Homo sapiens: one gene and its partners. The protein of the gene in region 5 purifies or fractionates together with the protein of the main gene of each other region. This does not show direct contact. Each region holds a gene or a part of one and is shown on either strand. Other genes may lie near its edges. The genes, in order: FAM118B, SLC47A1, FADS1, SLC12A4, PTH1R, SLC12A9 and ATP11C.

Region 1 (4,620 bases), on a different chromosome or scaffold from region 5:
GTGCTAAGAATATTAGTATTGCTGCATCCAGTTCTCCTCCACCAAACACTACATAGCATTGACAGTAAGCCAGGCACTGTTTTCCACACTTCACAAATATCTGCTCTTCTGTGAGGTAGATGCTATTATCATCTCATATCATAAATGGTATAGACAATGAAACAGAAGCACACAGATGTTAAGCAGCTTGTTAAAGGTCACACGACTATTACACATTAGACATGGAGTCAGTGTTCATGTTGTTAAGACACAAAACAATACCATCTCACAAAAACGAACAAGCCGTGGGCCACACTCTTAACAAGTCTACACCTTTGGAGAAACAGAACTATAAACAAACCTTTACAACATGTTTGTGCCAAGTTTCACATGCCTGGATGAGGTACCAAGGAGATGAGCACTTCTGCTTGAGGAAAATCAAGGAAAGCTTTATGGGAGATAAATACCCTTATGGCAAAATTCAATGAAATTGTTGGTGTTTATCCTCCTCTGCCTCCTGAAACACCCAACACTGAAGTCCATCTTGCCTTTTCCTGGTTTTCCTCCCTCCCCTCTAGTGGGAGGTCTTCCCTGTTTCCTAAATGCTGAGGATCCGCAGGGCTCTCCAGTCTATTCCCTTTACATACTCCCTTCCCTTCCCACCCCATTCACCCCTAGATATTAAAATACCAACTAAACGCTAAGGACTCCCAAAACGCTACCTTCAGTTCAGATCTCGGTGGTGCTTCAGGCCCAGGAGATAGCCATGTAAGTTTCAGTCAGGCAGCCCTTCAATATTGAAAGGTACTTTCAGACTGTACTTCAAACTTAAAAACCAAAAAACCGTTCAACAACCTGCTCCTTATCCTAAGTTATACAGATCTCTGAATAGTAGAAATAAGCTATGTGATAATATTTATAGGCCATTATTTCTTTCTTTCTGTTTTAAGCACCAACATATGTATTTACTGATTTTGGAAAAACTGTCATATACTTCAGAATAATGTATTTGGATCATTTCTAAACAAGAGAATATGAACCAAAGGGAACCCAGGGAAGAAAGTAAATCTGTAACCTTAAACTAGCATGATATTCTTTTCAGGATATTCTCTTTTTCCTAATAAAAATTAGCCAAAAATTAATATTGTTTTTCTTTGAGATGGAGTCTTACTCTGTCACCCAGGCTGGAGTGCAGTGGCTTGATCTCAGCTCACTGCAGCCTCTGCCTCCCGGGTTCAAGCTATTCTCCTGCCTCAGGCTCCCAAGTAGCTGGGATTACAGGCCCACGCCACCATGTTTGGCTAATTTTTGTATTTTTAGTAAAGACAGGGTTTCACTATGTTGGCCAGGCTGGTTTCAAACTCCTGGCCTCAAGCGATCCACATGCCTTGGCCTCTCAAAGTGGTGGGATTACAGGCATGAGCCACTGCGCCCGGCCTACTATTCTCTTTGATCTGAAGATGAACTGAGAGCTGAAAAGCACTGTTTAGATCTGAAATAAGAATCTGAAAGCTCTTAAAAAAAAAAAGGCATTATTTGTCACAGAAGCCATCAGAACAACTACAAAGACCAGGTTTCTTAGGAGAAATAGCTCTAAAAACATGGTTTTGCCAAGCAGGTAGCATCAGTCTTTTTTGTTTGAGACAGTCTTGCTCTGTTCCCCAGGACGGCAAGATCATGGTTCACTGCAGCATCAAACTCTGGGGCTCAAGGGATCCTCCTATCTCAGCCTCCTAAGCAGCTGGGACTACAGGTGCGCACCACCACACCTGGCTAATTTTTAAATTTTGTTGTAGAGATGGGCTCTTGCTATGTTGACCAGGCTGATCTTGAACTCCTGGCCTTGTCAAGCAATCCTCTTGCCCTGGCCTCCCAAAGTGTTGGGATTACAGGCATGGGCCACCAAGCCCAGCCAAGCATCAGTCTTAAAAAAAAAGTGGCCAGTGAAAACAATTGAGGGTATTAAAAAAAAAAGAGAGAGAGAGAAAACAGAAAGCAGGTTAGGGAGACTAAAAACATACTTTCATAAGGAAGTGAAGGAGGTCAGTGGAAGACCAAGGAGGACTCTCAGGGAGCAGCCAGAAAGCTGGGCAGCCTGGGCCCAAGGGAGGCAGGTGGAGACTTCATTCAGAAAAAGAGAGCACCTTTCCCCCAGATTTGAAAGTAACAGATCACTGCAGGAAATATGCAGAAAGAGCAAAATGAAGCCCCCCTTCCTCCAACGTGGAGCTAACCACTGCTGACATTCGGATTTATGTGGAGAAAAGCAGTTTTTAAGAGGAACTCTCGGAATAAGTCTGAGTATCTTGGGTTCATGTTCATATCAATTCTAAAAACTTCATTCATTAGAGTTTGCCCCTGCTTTCACACCATAAATCTCCATACATATAAGCCCCCCCTTTAAAAAAAATTCTTCCTTCAATGTCTTATTAAAATTAACTTAAAAAAAAAACTCAAGCAGCTCGAGCTGCTTTTTTTTTTTTTTTAAGTTAATTTTAATAAGTACAGTAGTGCATGTTTTCTGCAGTAGAAGAAAGAAAGAAGCAGTCTATTTCTAGTGGCTGGGGGTAGGGAGGTGCTGGGGAAGAGCAGGAACCTAGGAAGAGTCAGCAGAGGGTAGCCACGCCCCAGCCCCATGGACGAGACTCCTGAGGAATCCATAAAACTGCGAAGTACTAAGTTCTGGCAACAGATCTCAAACCTGCTCCTTAGCAAGAGAGCTAAAAAGAGAGTGTTTCTTATGTACTCTGTTAATTTGACTCTTAAGGCATATAAACAATAGGGAGACCCTGTCTCTACAAAAATAAAAAACTTAGCCAGATGTGGTGGCATATGCCTATGGTCCCAGCTACTTGGGAGGCTGAGGTGGGAGGATTGCTTGAACCCAGGAGGTCGAGGCTGCAGTGAGTCATGATCATGCCCACTCCAGTCTGGGCAACAGAGAGAGACTCTCAAAAAAAAAAAAAAAAAAAAAAAAAAAAAAAAAAAAAAAAGATAAACAAGAGCTGAAGGATAAGCTTCCAAAATAAACGAGGAAAACAAGAAATCTGTGCTTTTCCTTATGTGATATTCCTGTGCTGCATTCCATGACACTAAGAATATAAAACATGATAACTTCTGTCCTTACGTGTTTACTTCTTAATCTTTTTCAAAGTACGCTATTAAAATGGCAACAGAGGAGTTTTTCTTTTTTCAAGGTATAAAACCAAGAATGTGAGGTGCAGGAGATAAGCATTCAATTTTTCAATGAATTTTTGGAGATGGAAAGCAAGCTTTAAATGCAGATCTGAAAATACGGATTGGCATAAAGTCTATTTAACTAATGCGCAAATTCTCTTCCTCACCTCCTATTTTCATCTATTTTCTCCACCCCCAAATCCAGAGGTTTAAAGAAAAATGAACCGAAATCTGAAATGGGTCTGGAGTAAAATACATCAGCAGGAGCAATGAAGAACTGAAAATACAGATTATGTCAAAAGATGCATACTAAAAGGTTCTCCAAGCCTCCATCCTTGTCCCAGCAACCAATGCACTGTCAGCTAAAGAAATATTAGCAAACATATACATTTGTACAAACATACACACAAAATCCATATATACCAGCCACCCTATAGTAATGGCCACCACCCAACAAGACCCACGCTGGGAACTTAAAATAACAAAAAACAAAACAGAAATGAACAGTCAGAATCATGAGACATTCAAAGAAATCCCACAATAAAATAATTCATTTATTCCTTAAGTTATTAAGCATCTATTCATCGCCAGGCACTGTTTCAGAGGCTGGAATTATAGAGGTAAACAAAAAAAAACCCAAAATCCCTGCCCTCATAGAATGTTTATTTTAGTGGTGAGGGAAACAAGTAAATAAATATGTGGGATGCTAGATGGTGGGAAATGCTTCTGGAGAGAAACAAAGCAGGGAAGTGAGATGGGGGTCTGCACTTCTCAATCCAGTGCTCTCTTCACTGAGGTGACATTTAAGGAAAGACTTGTGGATTCATCCAAAGTGAGGTGTGGGAGCAAGTCGCTGGATATCTGAGGGAAGACACATCCAGACAGAGGCACAGGTGCAAAGGCCCACATCACCTGAAGGAAGTGGAGCCTGTGCAGAGAGGAAGAAAACTCAAATACTCCAGCGGGCCCTCTGAGCCCACCATATCCACATAACAAGAATGGATATTACAAAAAGGTATCAAAGAAAAATTAAAGATTGAGCAAAAAATCACAGAAATAGTACAAGAAAACATCCCGGAACTAGAGGACGTGAATTTCCAGAATCAAAACCGTCTGTGAGAAGCCAGCACAACAGCTGAGTAAAAGACCCATACCCTGGTGTTAATACACATCATAAAACTGCAGAACACCAGAGATAGAGAATATCCTCAAAGCTTCCAGAAGGGGAGAAAACAAACAAAATACGGTCACGTAAGAAGGATTTAAATCACCACATCTCTAGAGCAATTACAGATGCCTTCAACATTCTGAGAGAACCTTATTTCCAATCTAGAATTATATAACTGCCAAACTATCAAACAAGTGTGTGGGCAAAACCAGGTCATTCAAATACTTCTTAGAAATAACTGAAGTATATGCTTTTAAAAAATAAAGACATAAGCCCAGAAAGAGGAAGATACGGTT
Region 2 (4,620 bases), on a different chromosome or scaffold from region 5:
AAAAAGTTGAACTCATAGAAGTAGAGAGTAGAATGATGGTTAGCAGGGACTGGTGGCAAGGAGGGGAGGGCATGGGAATGGGGAGTTGTTAAGGTACAAATTTCTGATAGACAGGAAGAATAAGTTTTGAGATCAATTGCACACCAGGGTGACTGTAGTCAATGTACTGCACATTTTGAATTAACTAAGTAAATTTCAAATGTCTCACCATAAAAAATAAGTGGTGATAAGTATGTTAATTAGCTTAATTTAATCATTCCACATTTTATACATATATCAAAACACCACACTGTACCCCATAAATGTATACAACTATAATTTGTCAATTTAAAGTTTAAAAGATATAATATAGAGAATTTAAATTATTTCCTTAATATTTTATACTGATTGCACGTTGCAATAATTTTAGACATATTGTGTTACATAAAATACATTACTTTAAAAATAAAAATAAATTAGATTTCTATAATATTTGCATTAGCTAGGCAATTGGCAAATCCAAACTATGAATCGCACCAGAAACTCAGCTAAATAATTTTCTGCACTATCATGCAAGCCCAATGAACTTTGCATTGGCAATACTATTCTTTGAACAACTCCTGTATTTTTAATTAAAATATTATTGAACTTGAGAAAAATGTGCCACATAAAGGAACATACTGAACTGGAAGTTCCCTGTAGGTATCAGTTGACTTCTCACCACCTCTGAGCCTGCCAAGTACAGATGAATCAAAACAAGCCACGCTTTAAGTCAGTCACTACTCACCCCAAAGATAAATGTCCAGGTTTTCATATCATCATTTATTAACTGCCAATATGTTCCAAATTATTATTTTAGAAATCAAAGCTGGGCAGTCATTTATTTCCGTACTTTTTAAAAAGATTAGCTCTGGTAATTTCAGATGCTGTGGATTAAGTTTTTTCTTCCAAATGTGGGAAGGTGCTCAAGTCCGCCCCCTTCCTTCTGTGCTGTTCACACCGACCACGTGTATGGCCTTGTGGGGAGCTCTGTGGGGGCACAGAGCTAAGGCTGCACAAGGAGGGAGGTGGAGGCTGCGGAGTGCGATGAGGGTGATGAGAAGGGCACTGGCCACCCATTGCCCTCCAAGGATCCAGCCATGCTGCTTGGTGAGCACATGGGGCACTGCTCTAGGATGCAGAGTGCCACCGTGAGTGCAGACCCTGCAGCACCCCACGCACGCAGGACCGCCTACGATAGCCCTGGCCCTGCAGAGTCACCCTCAGGGGCTCACATGCTGTCTCTAAAGAACAGCACGAAACACACTAAGGGGATGCTTCCAAATGCTTCTTCAGCGGTCCCTGCTGTTGCCTCCTTTAGAGAAGTGAGGGCTGGATGACTCAGGATAGGAGGTTGGTAGAAAGGGCATCTGTGCTCAAGTGTGTCAGCGTGGAAGATCGCCCGCAGGGGTGTGAGGGGCAGGACCACATAGCCTTGGGGCCCTGGCTAGAGCTGGAGGTCACCTCCTGAACGCCCCCTACACTCTCTGACAAGACACAGAATGGACGTGGGCGAGCTCCCGAGTTTCAGAGGTGAGCCTCAGTCAAAGACCCGTGTGCTCCGACGGTCATTTCCTGGGCTGGTGAGCAGCTAAGCCCTGCCTGCAGAGGTTAGAGCTTACCCATCACTCCAAGTGTGGTTGCAAACATCAGCGCGATCCCGATGGGGAGGCCAACCACATAGTACCCAATGGTATTCACAATGGCTCCAACCTTCTGATTTCCACTCCCCCTCAGAACACCACCACTCGTGCACTGCAGGCAGAGAGCATTCCATCACTGTGAACACATCCGGCGCTCTTGAAACACTCCCATCTCCCGAGCACTTCATATTCTGTGCTAAAATCCATGGTAAGGTGACAGTATCCTTCTAAACGAAATGTGGTAACAATATTCAATCTTCCTACCTATGCTGGCCCCTCCTCTCAGCTGAAATTTACCACCATCAGAAGATCATAACAGTGCTTAGGGGACTACTACATAATACTTACAGCAAGAGCTTCAAAGAGGTGGGAAACAGCATAAATTGGAACCACCTGAGCCACCAGATTAATGATGTCTCTGTTAGGAAAATAAAGCACGTGGTGATTAGGAGACAAAGTGGAGAAAGAAGTATATAGCTTTCTGGCTAGGCGCAGTGGCTCATGCCTGTAATCTCAGCACTTTGGGAGGCTGAGGCGGGAGGATCACCTGAGGTCAGGAGTTTGAGACCAGCCTGGCCAACATGGTGAAACCCCGTATCTACTAAAAATATAAAATTAGCCAGGCCTGGTGGTGGGTACCTGTAATCCCAGCTACTCAGGAGGCTGAGGCAGGAGAATCGCTTGAACCCGGGAGGCAGAGGTTGCAGTGAGCTGAGATCTCATCACTGCACTTCAGCCTGAATGACAGAGCGAGACTGTCTTAAAAAAAAAAGTATATAGCTTTCTGCATATTACAGACATGCACATGCATTGAGGCCAGCAGCCTAGTCAGGGACAGTTCACCTGTTGCTGGGTCCATAGAGGAAACTAACTGCATGTTGTATCTCACAGCTTTTAGAAAAAATAGGCAGCACCACACCCTTGTCTTCAAGAGATATGTTTCAAGTCCCCCAGTGGATGCCTGAAATCGCAGAGAGGACTGAACCCTAAATACATTGTGTTTTCCTTATACACAAATACATTATGATAATGTTAATTCATAATTTGGGCACAGTAAGAGAGTAACAACAGTAGTAATAAAGTAGGCCATAACCACATGCCAGCATCACTACTTTTGTGCTTTGGGATTACTAGCACTGTGATACCAAAACAGTCAATCTGAAATAACTAGCGGGTGGAAAGCACACACAGCGTGGAGATGTTGGACAAAGGGATGATTTCATGTCCCAGGCGGGACGTGAGATTTCCTCCTAATACTCATAACCGCACGCAATTGAAAACTTATGAATTGTTTATTTCTGGAATTTTCCACTTAAGATTTTCAGACCACCAGGCACGGTGGCTCACGCCTGTAATTCCAGCACTTTGGGAGGCCGAGGCGGGCGGATCACAAGGTCAGGAGATCGAGACCATCCTGGCTAACATGGTGAAACCCCGTCTCTACTAAAAATACAAAAAAATTAGCCGGGCGTGGTGGCGGGCGCCTGTAGTCCCAGCTGCTGGGGAGGCTGAGACAGGAGAATGGCGTGAACCTGGGAGGCAGAGCTCGCAGTGAGCTGAGATCATGCCACTGCACTCCAGCCTGGGCGACAGAGCGAGAGTCCATCTCAAAAAAAAAAAAAAAAAAAAAGATTTTCAGACCAAAATTGACTGCAGGTGACTAAACCTTGGAAAGCAAAACCAAGGATAAAGAGGGGTTACCGCATAGTCCATCTGGTCAGTGTAGACAAATCAAGGGATTTGGTGACATCCCTCCCCCGTTCCCCATCAGCTGAAAAGAAGTTTGGCTGGGCACAGTGGCACGCACCTATCATCCCGGCAAGTTTGGATGCTATGATCATCCTTCTTTTAAGATGATGCCACAGGCCAAGTCTGACTGTGTCTCCTAGTAAGCCTCAGTGAAGCACTACAGAGTAAAAATTAAGTTCCCTCTATGGAACGAAGGTTGGTAAAGGCCATAGATATATTCTGCAGAATTATCCTTGGTTCCTAGAAATGGAACCCCTAAAGCTAGAGACTTGGATTCTAACCTCTGCATGTGAAGGGAGATGAGAAAAATGCTGCCCTGACCTGGGGAAGCAGGAAATTCACAACACCCTTGGAGTGAGTTTTGTCACTCTAAACTAGAACCTAGAAGACTGTCTCCCAATAAATACTTGTTTAATTACTAAATAAGAAATCCAGCACTGGCCCAGGAGTGGTGGCTCATGCCTGTAATCCCTGCACTTTGGGAGGCCAAGGCAGGCAGATCACCTGAGGTGGTGAGTTCGAGACCAGCCTGACCAACATGGAGAACTCCCATCTCTTCTAAAAATACAAAATTAGCAGGTGTGGTGGTGCATGCCTGTAATCCCAGCTACTCGGGAGGCTGAGGCAGGAGAATCACTTGAAACCAGGAGGCGGAGATTGCGATGAGCCGAGATCGTGCCATTGCACTCCAGCCTGGGCAACAAGAGCGAAACTCCATCTCAAAAAAAAGAAAAGAAAAGAAATCCAGCACTGAACAAGATGATCACTTCCTCCTCACCAAAAAGGACAGAAATATAATTATTTTATTCAAATTTTATTTTTTGAATAGGTAACATGCACATGGTCAAAAAATGGAACAATATGAACAAGATAGTAAGCAAAGTCTTACTGCAATGCCCTTCCAGTTTGCCCCAGTACCAGCCCTGCCTCCTCCAGGTAACAATTCCTAGCACGTTCCATGTTTGTCTAGTGTCTATGAAAATATAAGCAAATACAAATGTATATTCTTAATTTTCCTTTCTATATTCTATCATTTCACATGCAGCATTCTCTATATGATGTTCTGCACCTTGCTTTTTCCACCTGAGATATTATATTCACTTTTTTTTTTAGACAGGGTCTCACTGTCACCCAGGCTGGAGTGGAGTGATGCAATCATGGCTCACTGCAGCCTCAACCTCTCAGGCTCAAGTGATCCTCCCACCTCAGC
Region 3 (4,620 bases), on a different chromosome or scaffold from region 5:
GCTCCTCTTGTGCCCTTGTGGTTGTCTGGTTACCTGAACTAATTGGAGTGCGATGCAGACATAGTCATGGAGTGAGACAGCAGAACTTTGCTGTCTTGTTTGTGAGCCCACATCAGGGGTTCTAGACTGGCTGGTTGACATGGTGGCCCCAGCCTGTCTCTTCAGCAGCTCGGCTTATAAAAAATAACCACCACCTACTGGGGAAAACTGCTGGAACCTTCAGATTGCCAAATTGTTCTTGGTGTCTTTTCCAGAAATATTTGCCAAACTCGAATTAGCCTTCAGGAGATTTGATAAAGCTCATGTTTAAGTCAAGAGACCAAAAGATTTTGATGGGGAGAATTAGGGGCTGGATATAGAGGGAATACTTAACCTGTATAGGGGCAGATATGGTTGTCCATGGAGATTCTGGTGTGAAAAAGTACGATGGCGGCCGGGCGCACTGCCTCACACCTGTAATCCCAGCACTCTGGGAGGCTGAGGTGGGTGGATCACCTGAGGTTGGGAGTTCAAGACCAGCCTGAACAACATGGAGAAACCCCATCTCTACTAAAAATACAAAATTAGCTGGGCGTGGAGGCACATGCCTGTAATCCTAGCTACTTGGGAGGCTGAGGCAGGAGAATCGCTTGAACCCAGGGAGGCAGAAGTTGTGGTAAGCCAAGATCGTGCCATTGCACTCCAGCCTGGGCAACAAGAGCGAGACTCCGTCTAAAAAATAAACAAAAAAGTACGATGGGAGAAAGGGGAGAGGGCAGTGGGGCCTGGAAACCTCATGACAAAGAGAATGAACACAAGAGGGCCTGTGGTCCTGTAGACTCTGTGCTGTGCACATCCCTCATGTGAGCATGGGCCATCCAGCTGCAGGCCATGGTGTGACACACTCTGCAGATTACAGTCTAGGGCTTCATGTTCCATGTGCTGGAGGTAAGGCTGGGCCTCTTGGAGCTTTCCAATAGCACCAACAAGCTGTCAGCCCTGGAGGAGGCCTAAACCTCCAAGCAAGGAAAGGTCAAGTCACAGAGGGAGGAATCACTGGTCTCCGAATGCTCATGTGTTTGCTTTTCTTCACAGCTTGGGAAACAGAAGAAAAAATATATGCCGTACAACCACCAGCACAAATACTTCTTCCTAAGTGAGTGTCCCCATCCAACACAGGGGAGCTGCCTCAGGAGGGAATGCTGAGGGAATGAGGAGGATGTGGCTGTCCAAGGGATTATGGTATTTTAAGGAAAGGGGCTAGAGGAAGTACCCCACTCCCACCCCCAGTTACTCCCTGCATGACAGCAGTTTGCCATCTCAGCTGAGCGAAGTGAAGTTAGGCTGATGATTGGTTGAAGGCAAACTAGTTCTTCCCATCCAACCCCAGTTTCCACTGGGAAGCTGGGTGTTTGGGGTGTAGAGGGGCCTCTTGCTTTATCCTCAACCTTATCTTTTTTTTTTTTTTTTTGAGACGGAGTCTTGCTCTGTCGCCCAGGCCGGACTGCGGACTGCAGTGGCGCAATCTCGGCTCACTGCAAGCTCTCCGCTTCCCGGGTTCACGCCATTCTCCTGCCTCAGCCTCCCGAGTAGCTGGGATTACAGGCACCCGCCACCGCGCCCGGCTAATTTTTTGTATTTTTAGTAGAGACGGGGTTTCACCTTGTTAGCCAGGATGGTCTCGATCTCCTGACCTCATGATCCACCCGCCTCGGCCTCCCAAAGTGCTGGGATTACAGGCGTGAGCCACCGCGCCCGGCCCCTCAACCTTATCTTAAACTTTGTCAAGATGGGCCAAGGTAACCTGGTAGAGCCCAGTCCAACCCCCAGAGGAACAAAGGTACAGATAGTTCTGGAAGGATGGGTCCTGAGGAGAGAATGGAAGAGCTGTTAGAACGAAGAAGATCTTTCTGATGACTGCCACATATTCCCAGCTTTAAAAGTCTGTCCCAGCTACTAAGGAAACTGAGGTGGGACCATCCTTTGAGCCCAGGAATTTGGGGCTGCAGTAAGCTCCGATTGTGCCACTGCACTCCAGCCTGGGCAACAGAGTGAGATCTTGTTTCTTAAAACAACAACAACTCTGCTCCATAATGCCTAAAATGAGCTTTAAACGCCTTTAAATTTTCAAATTTTTTAAAGAAGGAAGGGAAGGAGTCCACTGATCTTATTTTAGTTTGAAGGAATTCATCCTAACTGCCTATCACCAACTATCACGAATAGAGAAAGGCGATGGGGCAGAAGGGTAGAGCAGAGACCTCTGGAAGAAATAGTTTTAGAATCCATGGCACATCAAGATGGAGGAGCCATGGGTGAGCATTGTCATGCTAGGAGTTATGGGTAGCATCAGGTGCCACAGAGAAGGGCTACAGAAAAGGAAATGAGGAAGCATGTAGAATGCAACACTTCTTCAACTCCCAGTTTTCTTTCAAGAGAGGCCCCTCTGTTCCGTCCCACAGCTGACCTCCAGGGCTTCAGATTGGGGTGGCACAAGCCCATCTCCCTAGTTTAAGGAAGTGAGCTTCACAGCCTGTGAAGGATCCACAGGGTCCCTCCCAACACACACACACTTTCCTGCTCCTGCCCCTTCACCTGCATGGTGGAGCTGCCAGGAACAAAGGGCAGATGACTGTAGGGACAGGGCTGTGGCCAAGGTAAGTAAGAGAGTATTAGCACCCTTTTAAAAGTGTGGGATCCTTGGAGTGTGTATGTAGAAAAGAGAAGAAAAATGAAAAATAATAAAGGTGTGGGAGCAGAGCAAGTCCCATGCGTGGGGCCTGAGTTCCCAAGCACCTGTCACTGAAGAGTGCCACTCGCACCCCTCACCTTCCCTGGCATCCTCTTGGGAGTTTTTGCCTTCCCCAGACTTGGATTTATGCCCACCTTCAGTGCCTGCTGGTTCCAGTGGATTGCAGAGCACTCAAGCACCTGGAGGGGAGACAGAAGGGATGGTTGGAAGAGGCAGCCCCCTGCTAGAGGCCATCTCTCCCAACATCAACTGGCCCTTTCATGACCTTCCTGTGCTCATGCCTCCTCTTTGTCTCGGTTTCCTCCCCAGTTGGGCCCCCAGCCTTGCTGCCTCTCTACTTCCAGTGGTATATTTTCTATTTTGTTATCCAGCGAAAGAAGTGGGTGGTGAGTATCCATGGCCCAAGAAGCCCACATCCTTGTCTCCAGCACCCAGAGTGGGGGATAGGGGTTCCCCAGGGGAAACTTGAGACTGACTCTAGGCCTAATTTAGAACAAAATAATAGAACCAGACACAGATCCTCCTTATCTCTAAGTGGGACGAAATGATTTGAGCTTAGCAGGCAGCCTGATTCCCAATGTGTAATTTCATGCGGTCAGTGTCTCCAGAGGTTCTTGTACTGGGCATAATGCCAGGGGGCTGAGTTGGGAATGGGGAAGATGAATGAGAGACAATACCTACTTTCAAGGAAACTTCTGATGAAGCAGAATGTGGTTATTAATCAGAAAAGAGGTACAGGCAATAGGTTCTGGGGACTCCAAAAGGGGCCTGACTGCACCTGGCTTTGTGAAGTCACTTTTCTAGCTGGCCTTGAGGCTGGGCAGGGTTTCTGACAGGCAGAGGTGGAGCAGGGGGGATGAACTCTGAGCAGAGAAGCTGGAAATGAGGGGTAAGTTTGACCACCAGACATATTGTGGAGGACTAGTGTCAGGGGAAGAGTATGGTGCTTGGTTCAGTGATGAGAGATTTGATCAGGGCACTGGCATGGACTGAGCCATGGTCCTGGCAGATTCATTTGGCGGCATGCTGAAGGATTTAGATTGGCTAGGAAGAGCTAGAGGCAAAGAGACCTTGTAGGCCTTGGTACTTTTGAAGGGGACATGCAAGAAGGGCTGGGGGGTGCCAATGGGAATGGAAGAAAGGAGCAGTGGCACTAGATACTGCAGGATTGGACCCCTGAGAAGCTGAAGATGAGTGAGTCTGGATAACCAGGAGAATGGCTGCACCATGCAAACAAAGAGCTGCTGAGAGGAAGAGGAAGAGTTGTTCGTGACTGTTATGCTCGCTGCTTTTCTCACTATAGGACTTGGCCTGGATGATTACCTTCTACGTCCGCTTCTTCCTCACTTATGTGCCACTATTGGGGCTGAAAGCCTTCCTGGGCCTTTTCTTCATAGTCAGGTAGTATTCGGTGGGGGCGGATAGGGACTGGTGAAGGAAATGTTGGGGAGTGACCAGTCTGGTCTAGGGGCCGTGCTGGGGCTTTGGGTAACAGTGGGTGTTTCAGGAGTTGGCTTGGGAAAGTAGACAGGCTGGAGCAGTTATCTGAGGGGGGAATCAGAATTCTGGGCTCTGTGTGTACTGTTTTTGTCTGTGTAATACATCTAACAGGTTCCTGGAAAGCAACTGGTTTGTGTGGGTGACACAGATGAACCATATTCCCATGCACATTGATCATGACCGGAACATGGACTGGGTTTCCACCCAGGTAAGGGACAGTCACTCAGAAGACTGGAGCATAACACAACTATTGAAAAGGATGCGTAGGTGAAAACAGCAAAAACAAAAAGTCCCCCAAACAGCATTTTCTCATTAGCCTGAGGCTCTTGTTCTGCAACCATGTGAAGGGAGTGACCAAGACAGTCTCATGTCCCTTCCTCAGCCAGCTTTAC
Region 4 (4,620 bases), on a different chromosome or scaffold from region 5:
GCACCCGGCCTTTTTTTAAAAATGTATATTTTTATCATTTCCTTTTTTTAGTAGAGACGGGGTCTCGCCATGTTGCCCAGACTGGTCTGGAACTCCTGAGCTCAAGCAATCCACTCACCCCAGCCTCCCAAAATGCTGGGCTTACAGGCATGAGCCACCACGCCCAGCCAAGATTGACTCTTTGAAAGAATTTCTTGATCCCTGTTCCCAGATTTTCACCAGAGACATTGTCTCAGCAGCAGATACAACCAGCAACATGAGATGACTCTTGTCCCCCTGTGCTTGTCACCCTGGGGCCTGGTCATGACTCTCTGAGTCTTTTAAGGGTGTTAGACTTTGATAGAAGCACAGATTCAGGGCAGGGAGCCGTGGACACTCACCTGGTGGCAGGCACTGTGCGGGGCCTTAGGGCCAAAAGGCTGGATGAGACAGTCCCTCCTCTGGTCTGGAGGAGTCAGACTAACAAAGGCACAGGCCTCAGGAGGGTGAGGTGGGCTGAGATAGGACACACCCAGCCAGAGGAGGCTGTGGGCTGTGCACAGGGCATTGGAGGATGGTGGCCAGTCAGCCACTGCTGCAGACTAGAGCTGCTCCCGCAAAGCAGTTATTTCCACGGGCCGTGCTGGACATTCGAGTCAGATGGGGATAGGATCGAATGTCAGCCTAGATGCTTACCCACCGTGCAGCCCTGGGTAGGTCTCCCAGCCCCTCTACTCATCCACAAACAGGAAAAGCAGTCCCTGTCCCTCTGGGTGGTTGTGCAGGCTTGTCACAGGGAGACCCCTTGAAGAAGAACCAGCCTTGACCTGTGCACACTTTCATTTCTCTGCTGTAGCTGGGGGCTCCTATTTCATGATCTCTCGTTCACTGGGGCCAGAATTTGGAGGTGCTGTGGGCCTGTGCTTCTACCTGGGAACAACATTCGCAGCAGCCATGTACATCCTGGGGGCCATCGAGATCTTGCTGGTGAGTCAGGCTGAGCCCTGGCCAACTCTGGCCATGTCCAAACAGTCCCTTTGGACTCCAAACAGAAGGCTCAGGCTGTTCATCCCCACATGTCTGGCCAAGGCCTGGGTATTATAAAGTAGGAAGCCTCTTCGAGAGACAAAGACCTTTACTCAGGCTGGTCTTCCTTTCACCTCCATGCCAGTTTGGGCCAGGCAAGGCAGAGGCCTGGCTGCCTTCACCTCGGCCCTGGATGTTCCATCCACCTGGGCACCATTGCAGCCATGGCAAGGGTTCCAGGAACTGTTGTATTCAGCTCAGTGACAGATCTTGGTGGTGATGTAGGCTTCCTTCTGGGCTTGTGTGAGCTCTGGCCAGCTCTGTGTCCTCCGGGGCTCTGTGCCAGGGCACTTCAGATCCACCTTCTCCTTGTCCTTCAATCAGGGTAAGCAGCCACAGAACCCTGCTGGAGGTCGGCGCTCCCTCCACGAGCCCCATGGGAGCTCTGTCAGCCTCAGCTTCTCATTCCCCAGTGAACTGCCGTACCAGTGGGAGAAGAGGCAAGGAGCTGCGGGAGGCATGGGGTGACAGGTGCCCGCCCCTGGGGATCCAGAGGGTAGGAGATACCTGGAGGGACTGCCTGGCTGTTCTTGTCTCCAGGTCCTCTACCTGCAGCAGGACCCTGCACCTGAATCTTCTGATTTGGGGGGGCTTTGGCTTGTTTTCATTTCTCATATCCCTTCTACATTCATTATGTGGGATTTGTCCCTTCTCCTGTTTATCTATTCAGCCATGTCATTATATCTGTATGGACTTCTGGATATTTACTTTATTCTTTGGGTTGTAATCCAATACTATCATTATTTATTTTCTTGCTCAAACTGTTCCACTTTGGCTATTTAACGATTCAGGTTGGCATCTATGTTTGGATCCTTTTTGTTTGCTTGTTTTTAAGTAACAGCTTTATTAACATATAATTTACATACCATGCAATTCCCATACCAATTTATATACCATTGAAAGTGTACAATTCAATGTTTTATAGTATATTCACAGAGTTGCGCAGTCAATTCTAGAACATTTTCATCATCCCAAGAACCCCCATTAGCAGTCACTCTCCATTCCCCGCCAGCCCTGGCAACCAGGAATCTGCTTTCTGCCTTGGGATTTGCCTATTCTGGGCATCTCATATAAACAGAATCATATAATATGTGACCTTTTGTGACTGGCTTCTTTTAGGTACTCTTATTTTTTATTTTTATTTATTTATTTGTTTTGAGATGCAGTCTCACTCTGTCGCCCAAGCTGGAGTGCAGTGGCATGATCACAGCTCACTGCAATTTCCGCCTCCTGGGTTCAAGTGATTCTCCTGCCTCAGCCTCCCGAGTAGCTGGGATTACAGGCTCATGCCACCACGCCCAGCTAATTTTTTGTATTTTAGTAGAGATGAGGTTTCACCAAGTTGCCTGGGGTTGTCTCGAACTCTTGAGCTCAGGCAGTCGGCCTCCCAGAGTGCTGGGATTATAGGCATGAGCCATTGCGCCCGGCCTATTCATTTATTTTTTTGAGACAAGGTCTCACTCTGTCACCCAGACTGGAGTGCCGTGGTGTGGTCTCTACTCACTGCAACCACCACCTCCGAGACTGAAGTGATTCTCCTGCCTCAGCCTCCCGAGTAGCTGGGATTACAGGCGTGTGCCACTACTACCAGTTTTTGCACCACTAATTTTTGTATTTTTAGTAGAGATGAGGTTTCACCATGTTGGCCAGGCTGGTCTCAAACTCCTGACCTCAAGTGATCCACCGCCTCAGCCTCCCAAAGTGCTGGGATTACAGGCGTGAGCCACGGCGCTGACCTATTTTTTATTTTTTTTTGAGACGGAGTCCCCCTCTGTCACCCAGGCTGGAGTGCAGTGGTGCGATCTCTGCTCACTGCAACCTCTGCTTCCTGGATTCAGGCGATCCTCCTGCCTCAGCCTCCAGTTGCTGGGATTACAGGCACGTGCCACCACGCCCGGCTAATTTTTAGTAGAGATGGCGTTTCCCCATGTTGGCCAGGCTAGTCATGATCTCCTGACCTCAAGTGATCCCCCACCTCAGCCTCCCAAAGTGCTGGGATTACAGGCGTGAGCCACTGCGCCCGGCCTCTTTTAGGTACTCGTAAAAAGAAAACCAAAACGACAAGTTTCACTTTCCAAATAAGAAATAAAACCCTCCTTATCCATCTTCTTGTTTCAGACCTACATTGCCCCACCAGCTGCCATTTTTTACCCATCGGGTGCTCATGACACGTCGAATGCCACTTTGAACAATATGCGTGTGTATGGGACCATTTTCCTGACCTTCATGACCCTGGTGGTGTTTGTGGGGGTCAAGTATGTGAACAAATTTGCCTCGCTCTTCCTGGCCTGTGTGATCATCTCCATCCTCTCCATCTATGCTGGGGGCATAAAGTCTATATTTGACCCTCCCGTGTTTCCGTAAGTAACCCAGGAATTTATCTGGGCATTGCATGGACATCCCTCCCATGTAGCCAGCCTTTGATGCCCCAGATCCCAGAGACTGCAGGGTGGGCACAGGCAGGGGCTTTGACCTGAGCAGGTGCCGGTGCTTCTGTCCCTCACAGGGTATGCATGCTGGGCAACAGGACCCTGTCCCGGGACCAGTTTGACATCTGTGCCAAGACAGCTGTAGTGGACAATGAGACAGTGGCCACCCAGCTATGGAGTTTCTTCTGCCACAGCCCCAACCTTACGACCGACTCCTGTGACCCCTACTTCATGCTCAACAATGTGACCGAGATCCCTGGCATCCCCGGGGCAGCTGCTGGTGTGCTCCAGGGTGGGTCCTCCCTCCCGTCGTCTTGCTCTTGAGCCCACAGGCTGAGCAGGGGCACAGAGCACAGAGCTGTCCTTGTGTGGCCAGCTTGGGAACGGGGGCAGGACTGGCCGCCTTCCCAGCCCCCCAGTGTCCTCCCAGCCTGGCTCCTGGCAGCCGAGTTTGGAGTGAGTGGAGCCTGTCTGGCCAGCGTCCAAGGCCTGCAGCAGCCTGTCTTCCCCAGCCACCAGCCCCTGACACTGCCTGGGGATGTTCCCACAGGATCCATAAAGGCCTCTGTGGAAGGCGGGCAGTGGCGGGCTCTGGGTGACGGTGGTTCAGCCACCTTTGTCTGTCGACTTCTAGCTGGGCAGCTCCTTCTCTGTGGTCAGGGTAGCCCTGTGGCTGACGCTGCAGTCATTGGGCTGAAGCTGTTCCCTGAGTCCCCAAAGTTGCCCTGCATCTGCGCCTCTGGCTAGGCTGCCCCAAACTACCTGGGGTAGTGGGGGGCAGCTGTGGTGGTGACACAGCTACCCCTGCAGAAAACCTGTGGAGCGCCTACCTGGAGAAGGGTGACATCGTGGAGAAGCATGGGCTGCCCTCCGCAGATGCCCCGAGCCTGAAGGAGAGCCTGCCTCTGTACGTGGTCGCTGACATCGCCACATCCTTCACCGTGCTGGTCGGCATCTTCTTCCCTTCTGTAACAGGTGAGCCCTGCCTGCCTACCCACCCAGCCCTGTCCCCAATCCCGGGGAGCCCCTGAGGGAGTCTCATCTGTTTTTGGAGGCATCATGGCTGGCTCAAACCGCTCTGGGGACCTTCGTGACGCCCAGAAGTCTATCCCTGTGGGGACCATTC
Region 5 (3,699 bases):
TGCAGTGACAGAGCAGAGCCTATGGCCGTGGCTGCCAGGCCTTGCCCCGCCCCACTAGGGTGCAGCCTCCAGACGCAGCCCCCTCACTCCCACAGCTCAACTTCATCCTCTTCATCAATATCGTCCGGGTGCTCGCCACCAAGCTGCGGGAGACCAACGCCGGCCGGTGTGACACACGGCAGCAGTACCGGTGAGCCCACCATGCCTGCCATGCCCTGGCTCCTCAGGGGTCCCTGAGTCCTGGTACCATGTACCCCAGGAAAGACAGTGGCCCCATGAATGATCCTGGGGCAAGGGAAAGGACCCAGCGTCTGACTCCCTGGCTGTCCTCACCCACCTGGCCTGCCCAGCAGTGATGGGAGGCCCTAGGGCACCCCAAAGCCAGCCTGCCCACTTGTACCAGGCCCTGCACTAGAGCTGGAGTCTGTGAGTGTGCAACGAACTTGAACCTCTCCTCAAAGAGTTGGTTGCAGGGGGTCTGAGGAACAGGTAGGCGGTGAGTGGCCCCGGGAAGGCTGCAGCTCAGCTGAAACCTGAGGAGCGGACTGTGGGATAGTGAGGTTCGACCGTGGAGGGGAGTGCTTGCCAGCTGAGGGCTCCACAGGTGCGAAGGGCCCAGGGACAGGGGGACTGTCATTTGAAGTCCGCTCCGGGACACCGCTGAGAACCAACGGGCCCTATTAGCACTTAGCCAGGACAGCAGCCATGCAGGTGAACTGGGTTGTCCTCCCATGGTGACTGGAGCCCTGGGCCCCTTTGAGCTTCCGGAGCCTGGGGCTCGCAGGGTGGGGGGTGGCACAATGCTTGTTGAAGGGGAAGTGGCTTGGCCCTGACCTACCTGCCCCGCTGGCCCAGGAAGCTGCTCAAATCCACGCTGGTGCTCATGCCCCTCTTTGGCGTCCACTACATTGTCTTCATGGCCACACCATACACCGAGGTCTCAGGGACGCTCTGGCAAGTCCAGATGCACTATGAGATGCTCTTCAACTCCTTCCAGGTGCGCAGTGCTGGCCCGGGCCTGGCTGAGGGTGGGAGGGGTTCCGGGGGCAGGCCTGATTCGAGACACCCCTCTTCACAGGGATTTTTTGTCGCAATCATATACTGTTTCTGCAATGGCGAGGTAAGCAGGAGACAGTGTTGGCATAGGGCAGGGTGGGGCAGATACCCCAGAGGCTTCCTCAAGGCTCATTTCTCCATTCTTCCACCCTGTTATTTCTTTGTTCCTCCAAGAACACCCCTGAGGACATTCTGAAAGCAGAGAAGTCTTTCCAGATGATGCAGGTTCAGGATGTGCTAGGATGTGGGGACTCTTCAGTCACTGGCATAGCCAAGTGTCTTCCCAGCCCCATGGTTCAATTATCTGTGACCCAGATTGGAGGACTCAGCCACCTTTGGGGCAATTTGAGCCTTGTAGATTCTGGGTGTGTCGGCTGCCTGTAGCCAAACACCCTGTTGTGAGGATGGGATTTCACTTGGCCTTGGAGTTTCCCAGGAGTCCCCTATTCCCATTTTCATTCCGTGCTGGGTGTCCAGGGGCCGGGATGGGGCATCGCTGGGGTTGGGAGACACACCTGACTGCCGCACCCTTACTGCCCCAAGGTACAAGCTGAGATCAAGAAATCTTGGAGCCGCTGGACACTGGCACTGGACTTCAAGCGAAAGGCACGCAGCGGGAGCAGCAGCTATAGCTACGGCCCCATGGTGTCCCACACAAGTGTGACCAATGTCGGCCCCCGTGTGGGACTCGGCCTGCCCCTCAGCCCCCGCCTACTGCCCACTGCCACCACCAACGGCCACCCTCAGCTGCCTGGCCATGCCAAGCCAGGGACCCCAGCCCTGGAGACCCTCGAGACCACACCACCTGCCATGGCTGCTCCCAAGGACGATGGGTTCCTCAACGGCTCCTGCTCAGGCCTGGACGAGGAGGCCTCTGGGCCTGAGCGGCCACCTGCCCTGCTACAGGAAGAGTGGGAGACAGTCATGTGACCAGGCGCTGGGGGCTGGACCTGCTGACATAGTGGATGGACAGATGGACCAAAAGATGGGTGGTTGAATGATTTCCCACTCAGGGCTGGGGCCAAGAGGAAAAACAGGGAAAAAAAGAAAAAAAAAAGAAAAAGGAAAAGGAAGCGGTGTGTGGCTTCCTGTGGCCCAAACTGGGGACTCACTCCGAGAGGGTGGGGCTGGGAGCCAGGGAAAGCTGTGGCGGGAGGGCCATGAGTCATGGAGGAATCCTCAGGTCTCACTTCAGAATGGGGAGGGATCTGGGGCCTGTGGTATCCAGCAGAAAGGGCCCAGAGTGGCTCAAGTCTGCAGGGGTCACACAGCAGCCAAGTGGACCCATGTGGAAATCCAGCCTCAGCCTCCGTTGCTGCCAGCTGTGGAGCTGCTCTCCACACTTGTACCTAGACCCCATGGGGGACCCAGGCTCCTCTGGGCCAACTCTTCTGACTGCTGCCCCCATCACTGCCACCCAGGGCTGCTGGCAGATCCCTCGGGTCCCTGGCCACACCCCCAAGCCTACGGCCCTGCCACAGAATGGACCTTTCCTGGCTGTCCAGTGGCCACTCAGGGAGCCCTCCACGCAGGAGCCTTAGCATCCACCCGTGACCTGACATGCCTCTGTGACTGAGGTTGCAGTAGGAGCACCAGGCCAGCAGGTGAAGGGTGGGCTGGGTCCCTGCTCTGGCTCAGGACTTGTGGGGAGCCAGGAGTCTGAGCCCAGAGGGCTGGCTGGGCAGGGGCCTGCAAGGTGGGACACATCCATTCACTATGCATCTGGGACAGTCACTAAGTGTCCTCACCTGACACCCACCTACCACCTTACTCACCCCCCCGGACCGTGCCCTCTCCCACCTTGGGCCATTCGTGGGCCCCAGAGTGGCACAGAGCCCCTCAGCCCGACACCCTGAGGACTGACCCTACAGCATGCCCACCCCGGGCTCTGGCCTGAACGAGCTTCTTGCTCTTGCTCCAGCCTAAAGACAGCCCCGCACGAGCCCTGCCCTGCCTTCCCATCTCCCGCTCAGCCCGTCTTACTCTTCTCCACGGACTCGGCATCCAGGAGTGCACCTCATCTCCAGCAGCCCACACACACCCCATAGGGCATAGGGGAGGGGTCAGGAGGCCCAAGACAAAAAACTCAGGTGGGCGTTAGGAGGTGTGGGTGCCTGCTGAGCAGCCCCACACCCAGCCCTGCCTGCCCTTCCAGATGACGGACAGGACCAAAGGCTGTCCAAGGGCCTGGTGCACCCGTGGAGCTCCATGCAATGGTTGAGGGAGGCATAGGCCAGTCTTGAAGGGCTGCAGAGCCAGGCTGGGAGCCACTGGAAGTTCAAGAGGGAGAGCAACAAGGTCTGAATGTTTAAAAAGTCCCCACAGCAATGTGGAGACGAGAGGAGGCTGCACAGGGGTTGGAGAAGAGGTGGCCTGGCAGGAGGCGGGTGGCCTCGCAGGGAGATGGTGACAGGGAGGGCAGCAAGAGTTAGCTGGGGGAAGGAGACCTCAGCAGGGCAGACCCTCATCCTCCTCCCCAGGGATGTCCGATGCCACTCTCTAGGGTCTGAACTGAGGTTTCTGAAGTAATAAGCCAATGAGGCCCACTCACCTAGAAGCATTCAGACTGGGCACCCCGCAACAGGGCTGTGGCTTCCCCCTCAGACTGGGTGCCCCCCCAGGTGGAGGTGGGCCTCTCCTCTC
Region 6 (3,519 bases), on a different chromosome or scaffold from region 5:
ACCTTTTTTTTTTTTTTGAGATGGAGCTTCGTTCTGTTGCCCAGGCTGGAGTGCAGTGGGACGATCTTGGCTCACTGCAACCTCCACCTCCCAGGTTCAAGTAATTCTCCTGCCTTAGCCTCCTGAGCTGGGATTACAGGCACACACCATCATGCCTGGCTAGTTTTTGTATTTTTAGTAGAGAAGGGGTTTCACCATGTTGGCCAAGCTAGTCTCGAACTCCTGACCTCAAGTGCTCCGCCCATCTCGGCCTCCCAAAGTGCTGGAATTGTAGGTGTGAGCCACCACGGCCAGAACCCCTCCCCCGCTTTTTTTTGAGACAAGGTCTTGCTCTGTCACCCAGGCTGGAGAGCAGTGGTGCCATCATAGTTCACTGCAGCCTCAACCTCTTGGGCTCAAGTAATCCTCCTGCCTTGGCCTCCTGAGTAGCTGGGACTACAGGTGTGTGCCACCAGGCCTGGCTCATTTGTAGAGATGAGGTCTCTTTATGTTTCCCAGGCTGTCTGGAACTCCTGGCTCAAGCAGCCCTCCCACCTTGGCTTCCCAAAGGGCAGGGATTACAGGCATGAGCCCCGACACCAGCCCCTCTGCCCCTTTTATCCTTTCCCATGACCCCTCCAAGTAGCCATAGCCCTGCCCAGGCCCGTCTGTGATTTGGACTCTAGGAGACATTGAGTTTGGACAACACTGGCTACCTTCCTTTCCTTATCTTCTCTGTAGACTCCCTGCCCTCGGACCCTGTACAGCCGCAGTATGGGGCATGGCTCAGCCTGGTGGACCGTGCCCAGGTGAAGGCTTTTGTGGATCTAACCCTCTCACCCTCCGTGCGCCAGGGGGCTCAGCATCTGCTGCGAATCTCCGGCCTCGGTGAGCTGCTTCTCCCTGGATGCCCTCGGCCTTCCTCTGTGGCCACTTCAAATCTCCGCTCCCCTCCCCTAGAGAGTCAGCCACAGATTGCAAACTGCAAAAGGACCTTATAGTCGAGAGGAGATAAGACAGTGCTCAAAGATAATAGCCTCAGACAGTGTGTGATAAGGTCTAATAGGAGATGCTAGGGACTAGTGATGGGGTGGGCGATGTTGTGGGTTTTTTTTCCTTCTTCTTTTTTTTTTTTTTTTTTGAGACGGAGTCTCACTCTGTCTTGCCCAGGCTGGAGTACAGTGGCACGATCTTGGCTCACTGCCTCCTCCACCTCCCAGGTTCAAGTGATTCTCCTGTCTTAGCCTCCCAAATATCTGGGACTATAGGCATGTGCTACCATACCTGGCTAATTTTTGTATTTTTAGTAGAGATGGGGGTTTCACCATGTTGCCCAGGCCAGTGTCGAGCTCCTGACCTCAGGTGATCTACCCGCCTCGGCCTCCCAAAGTGCTGGGATTACAGGCATGTACCACTGTGCCCAGCCTTTCCTTCTTTTTTTTTCTGATCCAAAAATTGGGGCATAGGCACTGAAGAGTGTATTTTTGGAGACAATGGAGCATTATTTGAATCTCCAGCTGCCTCATCAAATCAGATGGTTTTTAACCACCAGTGTTCAGAGGAAGGCAGGCCAGCCACTATACACTGATGTGGCCAGCAAAGGTTTTGCGGAGAGATGGTAATTCATCCAGACTTTGAAAGAGGTTGGGATGTAGGAGATGTAACATGTCTCCCCTGCCCCCGCCACCCAAAGCCACAAAGGATGCCGGAGGCTGTGTGGGGCGGACGTCTGTGGATGGAGCGGTAAATTCTCAGCTTTTAGCGCTGAGGCCACCAGGGTTATCTATGCTCAGTCACTGCCTTTTCCCTTAATCCTGGACCAGTGCCCGTCACCAAAGTGCATGCTTCCTTCTCTATTCAGAGTCTGGCTAAAGTTCAACAGTGTTGGACATTGCCCAGTTCAGTGTAAATCAGAACCCTGGGAAATACTGAGGAGGGGGCATGACTAGTTTATTTTGCAAGATCAGCTGGAATTCACACCTGCGGAGATGTTTTGGGGTGTCGTCAAGCATCATTGACCCACAGAACATCTGAGAGCCTGGTCTTCACTTTTTGTGCAGAGACCACAATGCTTATGAAATACGAAATTTTTCCTGTGGAAGATATCAGGTCGGTGCAAAAGCAATTGCGGTTTTTGCCTTTTTTTTTTTTTTTTTTTGGACAGGGTCTCACTCTGTTGCCCAGGCTGGAGTGCAGTGGCACAATGTCAGCTCACTGCAACCTCTGCCTCCCGGGTTCAAGTATTCTCCCATCTCAGCCTCCCAAGTAGCTGGGACTACAGATATACGCCAGCATTGTCCGGCTAATTTTTGTATATTTTTGGTAGAGACGGGGTTTCACCATATTGCCCAGGCTGATCTCGAACTTCCAACCTCAGGTGATCCGCCTGCCTCAGCCTCCCAAAGTGCTGGGATGCCATTTTAATGGGGGAAAAAAAGAACCACAATTACTTTTGCACCAACCTATTCCAATAAAAGGAAAAGTAGTTCCTTTAAATGGTGGATTCTCCTGTCATAGAAAATTTGATTTATGGCTTGAGCAGTGTTTGTTTCATGAGAAGGGGTCTTGGAAGAGGTCTCTGCGTCTCCCTGTAAACTCAGCAATTATCCGATTCCACAAGGGTTGTTCAAAAATTAAGAACGAAGAGCTTGTCAGCAGGGACTTGGAGCATTGTGGTTGCCACGTGCCCAGCTCGGTGGCTCAGAGTGTGGCCTCTCACGCTGGATGGAGGCGGATTGCGTTGACCTACCTGCCCCAGTACCTACCAGATATGAGCCTATGGGCAAGTGACTTCATCCCTTGGTGCTTTGGGCTCCTTATCAGTAAAAAGAGGAGACTAAATATTACCTACCTCATAGCATTACTTCGAGTTTCAAATAAGTTAAAATATAAAGTGCTTTCTACAGGACATAGCCCCTGGTAAGCGGATACCATGCAATGAACCACCATGATTAGGGTTTTGGTAAAACCTACTAGGGTTAGGGTTTACTGCAGTAAACATACGGGGTAGCCCTGTTTCTTTTTTTCTTTTTTTTTGAGATGGAGTCTCGCTCTGTTGCCCAGGCTGGAGTGCAGTGGCGTGATCTCGGCTTACTACAACCACCACCTTCCGGGTTCAGGCAATTCTCATGTCTCAGCCTCCTGAGTAGCTGGGATTATAGATGCCCACCACAATGCCCGGCTAATTTTTGTATTTTTAGTAGAGATAGCATTTCACCGTATTGGCCAGGCTGGTCTCAAACTCCTGATCTCAGGTGATCAACGTGCCTCAGCTTCCCAAGATGCTGCGATTACAGGTGTGAGCCACGGTGCCCTGCCTGGTCCATTTTTTCATCTTCCCATTGCAGAGTCTGGGACGCTATTACCCTGGGGATTCAGGTCATGAGCTTGGCTGATCAGGGTGTCTGGTTTGCACAACAGAGTCAAACTCGCATCCCCTGCCGTGAAACAGATGCCCCGCTAGAAGCCGGGAGTGGACAGCATCCTCCTCTCCATAGAATTGGAGTGCTCATTAGTGGCAAGAATCCTAAGGCGAACTTT
Region 7 (4,620 bases), on a different chromosome or scaffold from region 5:
CAGGATAACACCTCAAGGAAAGGTCAAGTATAGGATTTTTGTATTTCAAAAAGTTGTGTCCCCCCTAAGCACAGTCATTGGCTGTCTGTAAATCAATGAAATATATCTGGAGTTTCTGGCCAAGTAGCAAATACCATTTCACATTTCCAATGGAGAAATTTCCACATATCCTGTGTGAAGTTTTCTCATGTAAGTCACCACAATCAAAAAGGAGGCTTAACTTCGCTGAAGCTTGACAAAGGAAGACTATAATTTAATGGGAATGCACCCAGCAACATGGCCGTGCTTAGCATGGGATGTCAGCACAAACAGGAAGAAATATTCCATTATGTAGAGAACTCTTTCAGAGTGGTAGACAGGGAAGGGAAGAATGTCAACTGTCTGAGCCAAAGTCCCAGAGAAAGCATTTTGGAAATTTTGGAGAATATAGTTAATCATTATAATAATGATGATTACTATTATGATTCTTACAGTGTCATATACAACCATGGGTTCACAGGGCAATAGCCCTGTTAGCTGGATTAGACAAAAATAAAGTTTAATCCTAATGTCGTGGCTGTTGAGATGGGCCTTTATCCATTGGCCTCTTTGACATACTGCTAATTGAGCTGGTGTCAAAGCTCTCTAGATGACTGCAAAGGAATGTGGAAATTTCATTCTGTTTTAGCTCATTATCTCCTGTTTACCCCACCCCACTGCCGGTTGCTAGCTATATCAATTTTTTTATTGCTTTAGTTACTCTTTCCATGCTTTCTCCTGCTTTCTGTACTTTCATTTCCTTTATAAAGTAGTTTTAACACCTAATCTATTAACTCCTAATATTTCTGCTTCATAGAAATACTTTTATCTCCGATGGTTGGATACAAGTGTTTGAGCACACCAAAACGTGCTTACAGTTGCAGTCTTGAATAGATAGGTTTGTGCATTAAACACGGGGGTGGGGAACTTGGTATCATGCTGATCTTGTCGCAGGGTTTTTGCCCATAAAATAGAAGATAGAAACAATTAAAATCTTTTTCTCAGAATCTAAATATTCTCTAGCTTTATCAATTGGTAATTTGCATTCTATCAATATGTCTATCAACTTTCTTCATTCCACCAACTTTCTTCATTTAAGGTAAAAACAAGAAAAAATGTAGTTGTCAAAACATGAATAAATTATTTACCTTTGAAAGTTTAATTGTTTATTAGAATCTTCTGGAAACAAATGTTACTTTAGCTGGTTTCTTTTTCTAAGCCCATTTTAGGTCACTAAGTAGACAATATGGGTAATCTTTATTAGCAGAGTTGTTCAAGTCATCCACATTGTTGACCACTCATCTTCTGTTTTGCTTGGGCAATGCCAAAACTGAGTCTGTAAATTACCTTATAATTTCAGGCACAGAATCAGAAGGAAAAAAATAACCTTAGGTTTGCCAGTTAAACTTTATCCATTTTCACTTTTCTGGGTGTTTTAAGGGGAAAAAAAATAATACCTTACCCAGGTAAAATTTAGCCTATCTTTCTAAAGAGGACTCTGTAGGAAAAACAGGGAAACCAATCAAATTAGGTTGTAAGAAAGGAAGTTAAGCATTGGTCAGAGGCAAATGGGACTGAAATGTGGTATCACCAAATGTTTTCCCATTGTTATTTTTGATTAAGTTTTTATCCTGCAACTGCTTAAGAGCAGTCAGTCCCTTCATAGTGTATCTGTACAGTTGCATAGGGGAGATAATTACTTCAAGATAGATTGGTGATTGGCAATGGACCCTGGACATAACTCTTTGACCAATGGATTTTGAACAAATGTAGGATAGTGAATTAATGATTAGAGATAAGTCTTATTTTAACGAGAAGCATATTTTAAAGCTATTTTATTTAAAATAGTCAATTTTCCCATTAACAAAATAATTTCAAATTGATATGTAGAGAAATAGTAGTTGGCACGTAATAATAGACTATTCCTATCTCTGACTCTGCTTTTACTTCAGAAAATAATGTCTTCAAAACTAACATATCATTTCGGCTTCGAATTCTCAAGTTTTCTTTTTAAATGTCTTACATTTGAGAGATTATTTACTTTTTTTTTTTTTTTGGTTTCTGCATTTCTCTTTTTTCTACTGCAATTTTCCACCTTTTGTGCAATTGTGAACAAGGTAACGAAACGCCTCCCTTCCTCAGGAACATCTGCTATCTTCATGCTTTCTCAAACTTCCAGCAATCACAGTTTCTCTTGGAGTGAATAAGGTGATTTCCTTTCTTAATGTACCAACTTGCTTGCATTCTCATTTGCCTGACACCATTTTCTAATTCTTTATGAAAAATTACTTCTCATGACTCATTTTATATCTTCTATTGATGCTTAGAGTATTTTGTCATTTTCTTTTAATCATGTGTTCACCTTCCAAATTGTCACACTGGAGAGGAAGTAATTTTTAAAAGCTTGGACTACGGGTCTGTAGTCTTCATTGATCCACGGTATGCAGTGGCCATGGCGTGTTAGAGCTAGTCTGTTCACCAGGACAGGAATGTTTTGCACAAATTTCTCTTTGTTTGATAATACGGCACCGGCACAACTCTCAGAGGTGTTCACCAAAAGGATGGTAAGGTTTACTAATCAAACCATATTGACTCATCTTACCATATTACTTACCAGTGCCATTCCAAAAACCCAAGTTTACTACATACTACTGTTGTCTGTTTACTTCTACCACAAAAACAATTCGAGTTGGAGACTTTCTTAGGCCTTTGAATGTATTCATTTGAATGTTATACATTTACTATATAGTGTAATCATTTGTACTTTTGGCCAGAGGAGTAGTCTATAGGAAATGATTTTTTTCTTTTACCTTTTTTTAAATATATAATCACCAGGTAGGTTAACCAATTTTCAAATGCTTTAAGTATCTTTGCCTCACTATTACAGAGAAATCTGAGCTGTAGAAGGGCATCTGACTCATTATCCGCCAGACCTTCAGTCAGACCTCTTCTTTTACGAACATTCTCAGACGAATCTAATGTATTGTAACAGGTACCTAGTGTTAAACAAATGGGCTGGCTTTAAAAAATCGGATTAACAGCATTATAAAGAAAAAATGAAAATATCACTCTCTAAATTTTCTCTGCTGTTGGTGTGGTGAACTTTACAATATTCTTTGCAAAAATATAAAGATGCATTACTTGGAATATGGGGAAATATGCATTTAAAATATTAAACATTAAAATATGATAAGCCCCCCAAATAAAATGTTAAACATTTTTCAGAGCCAAATGTTGATACAGCATATTTAATTTGTAAGGGGCAAGTTGTCATGGCAAGGCCACCATGTGAAAATGTTTGTTAATATTGATCAGGAAATATAACTTTGATTTATAAAGATCATTTGGAAAACTAAAAGTAAATATTCCAAAATTGCATCTGTATAATATCAAGCCAATTTAGCATTGCATGTTCTCTTGGGAATTATGTGAAAATAACTAAATGTGTTTGTACCTTCATGTGCTGTGTCTGTGTGTTTGCAGGTACTGTATACACTTATGTCCTTGTAAATGTCTGATCTCCAAATATATATCAATGAACCAGTCTAATCATAACTTTTTTAATGTCAAGTTTTATTCAAGCTAAATGTTTCAACTTTCAGAGGTAAAATATTTCATAGCCATTCAGGGGGATGCTTGCCTAATGATATAAAATGCTTTATAATTAATGTTTCCAAAAATGATTAAATTCACTTTATAATGTTTCATTTACCCCCAAAAATATTTGGGAGGAATTGATACGCCGTGGGAGGGCCCCTTGAACTCAGAATGACTCCTTTATGTATAGTCTGTATTTCCTTCAGTGGGGGCCTTTAACAACTCAGACCTCTGGAGGTCTTTTATCCATCCATAGGAATTTAGAGTAATTAATGAACAAGGCTTCCAAGCTTGTCAGCTTGGAAACAACTCTACACAGCTTAAAGCAGGGCCATCTTTCATGCACACATAAAAATTAATGATCATCATGAATACAATTGTGGGTTAGTTCACTTTGAAGCTAATAATTGCGAGTCCACCTTATAGGCCCATTTTTTTCAACAGCTGTCAACTCTGCCACCCTCTAGCAAAGAATACAAGTTAAATTAATGGATTGACTCCATTGGTTCTTCTGTCTTCCTGGAGTTCATCGCAGTCTACATCTGCACTGTTATTTTAGAAGCAGACTCATTTTGCCACAGTTAGCATCTTTTTACCCATTTTTGAACAACTTACCTGAGTATGTTTTCCCTTAGTAATGAATCTGCTTCACAAGTAACCTTCAAGGTCTTTGACCCCTTTGTCCCAGATTGCCTCGTTCTAAGCTGTGTGATGCATTTTAGCTATATTGTTTCTGGCTAATTTTGTATCCCCCTGGATTGCTCTCTTTAGCTTGGTCTGTGGTTTGGGGGACTGGGCTGGATAGAAGACACTGCTGTTGCTTTTGGCCTCTCCAGGGCCTTATCTCCTACAATGTCTAACATAGAACTGAGGAAGTATTTTTTAAAAACAATTGTCTTATTTTTAATGTAGTTATTTCTTCCAGGAATAGATTTTCATGTGGCATTATTTCTCCTCCAAAGACAATAATTAGCAGCTAGTTTAGGCATCTAGTTTGTTCCTTGG

Evidence for each region.
Region 1: the proteins of PTH1R (region 5) and FAM118B purify together in Homo sapiens (affinity purification with mass spectrometry; 2 studies listed by BioGRID and IntAct, with this or other methods). This does not show direct contact.
Region 2: the proteins of PTH1R (region 5) and SLC47A1 purify together in Homo sapiens (affinity purification with mass spectrometry; 2 studies listed by BioGRID and IntAct, with this or other methods). This does not show direct contact.
Region 3: the proteins of PTH1R (region 5) and FADS1 purify together in Homo sapiens (affinity purification with mass spectrometry; 2 studies listed by BioGRID and IntAct, with this or other methods). This does not show direct contact.
Region 4: the proteins of PTH1R (region 5) and SLC12A4 purify together in Homo sapiens (affinity purification with mass spectrometry; 2 studies listed by BioGRID and IntAct, with this or other methods). This does not show direct contact.
Region 6: the proteins of PTH1R (region 5) and SLC12A9 purify together in Homo sapiens (affinity purification with mass spectrometry; 2 studies listed by BioGRID and IntAct, with this or other methods). This does not show direct contact.
Region 7: the proteins of PTH1R (region 5) and ATP11C purify together in Homo sapiens (affinity purification with mass spectrometry; 2 studies listed by BioGRID and IntAct, with this or other methods). This does not show direct contact.

The regions. Positions count from the first base shown.
Region 1 is NC_000011.10:126,217,702-126,222,321, reverse strand, and holds part of FAM118B (protein FAM118B), read right to left. Parts: intron 1-4,620. UniProt on the Homo sapiens protein: May play a role in Cajal bodies formation.
Region 2 is NC_000017.11:19,564,249-19,568,868, reverse strand, and holds part of SLC47A1 (multidrug and toxin extrusion protein 1), read right to left. Parts: intron 4,347-4,620; exon of another isoform or gene 4,240-4,346; intron 2,080-4,239; coding exon 2,010-2,079; intron 1,774-2,009; coding exon 1,641-1,773; intron 1-1,640.
Region 3 is NC_000011.10:61,803,179-61,807,798, reverse strand, and holds part of FADS1 (acyl-CoA (8-3)-desaturase), read left to right. Parts: intron 1-1,074; coding exon 1,075-1,135; intron 1,136-3,037; coding exon 3,038-3,114; intron 3,115-4,031; coding exon 4,032-4,129; intron 4,130-4,339; coding exon 4,340-4,436; intron 4,437-4,620.
Region 4 is NC_000016.10:67,950,989-67,955,608, reverse strand, and holds part of SLC12A4 (solute carrier family 12 member 4), read left to right. Parts: intron 1-835; coding exon 836-966; intron 967-3,183; coding exon 3,184-3,425; intron 3,426-3,571; coding exon 3,572-3,786; intron 3,787-4,304; coding exon 4,305-4,469; intron 4,470-4,548; coding exon 4,549-4,620. UniProt on the Homo sapiens protein: Mediates electroneutral potassium-chloride cotransport when activated by cell swelling. May contribute to cell volume homeostasis in single cells. May be involved in the regulation of basolateral Cl(-) exit in NaCl absorbing epithelia.
Region 5 is NC_000003.12:46,901,671-46,905,369, forward strand, and holds the end of PTH1R (parathyroid hormone/parathyroid hormone-related peptide receptor precursor), read left to right. Parts: intron 1-95; coding exon 96-190; intron 191-855; coding exon 856-997; intron 998-1,078; coding exon 1,079-1,120; intron 1,121-1,599; coding exon 1,600-1,986; 3' UTR 1,987-2,129; downstream 2,130-3,699.
Region 6 is NC_000007.14:100,861,961-100,865,479, forward strand, and holds part of SLC12A9 (solute carrier family 12 member 9), read left to right. Parts: intron 1-720; coding exon 721-867; intron 868-3,326; coding exon of another isoform or gene 3,327-3,364; exon of another isoform or gene 3,365-3,399; coding exon of another isoform or gene 3,400-3,425; exon of another isoform or gene 3,426-3,519. UniProt on the Homo sapiens protein: May be an inhibitor of SLC12A1. Seems to correspond to a subunit of a multimeric transport system and thus, additional subunits may be required for its function. May play a role in lysosomal ion flux and osmoregulation.
Region 7 is NC_000023.11:139,730,041-139,734,660, reverse strand, and holds part of ATP11C (phospholipid-transporting ATPase IG), read left to right. Parts: intron 1-2,135; coding exon of another isoform or gene 2,136-2,225; exon of another isoform or gene 2,226-2,226; intron 2,227-2,905; coding exon 2,906-3,007; 3' UTR 3,008-3,010; intron 3,011-4,620. UniProt on the Homo sapiens protein: Catalytic component of a P4-ATPase flippase complex which catalyzes the hydrolysis of ATP coupled to the transport of aminophospholipids, phosphatidylserines (PS) and phosphatidylethanolamines (PE), from the outer to the inner leaflet of the plasma membrane.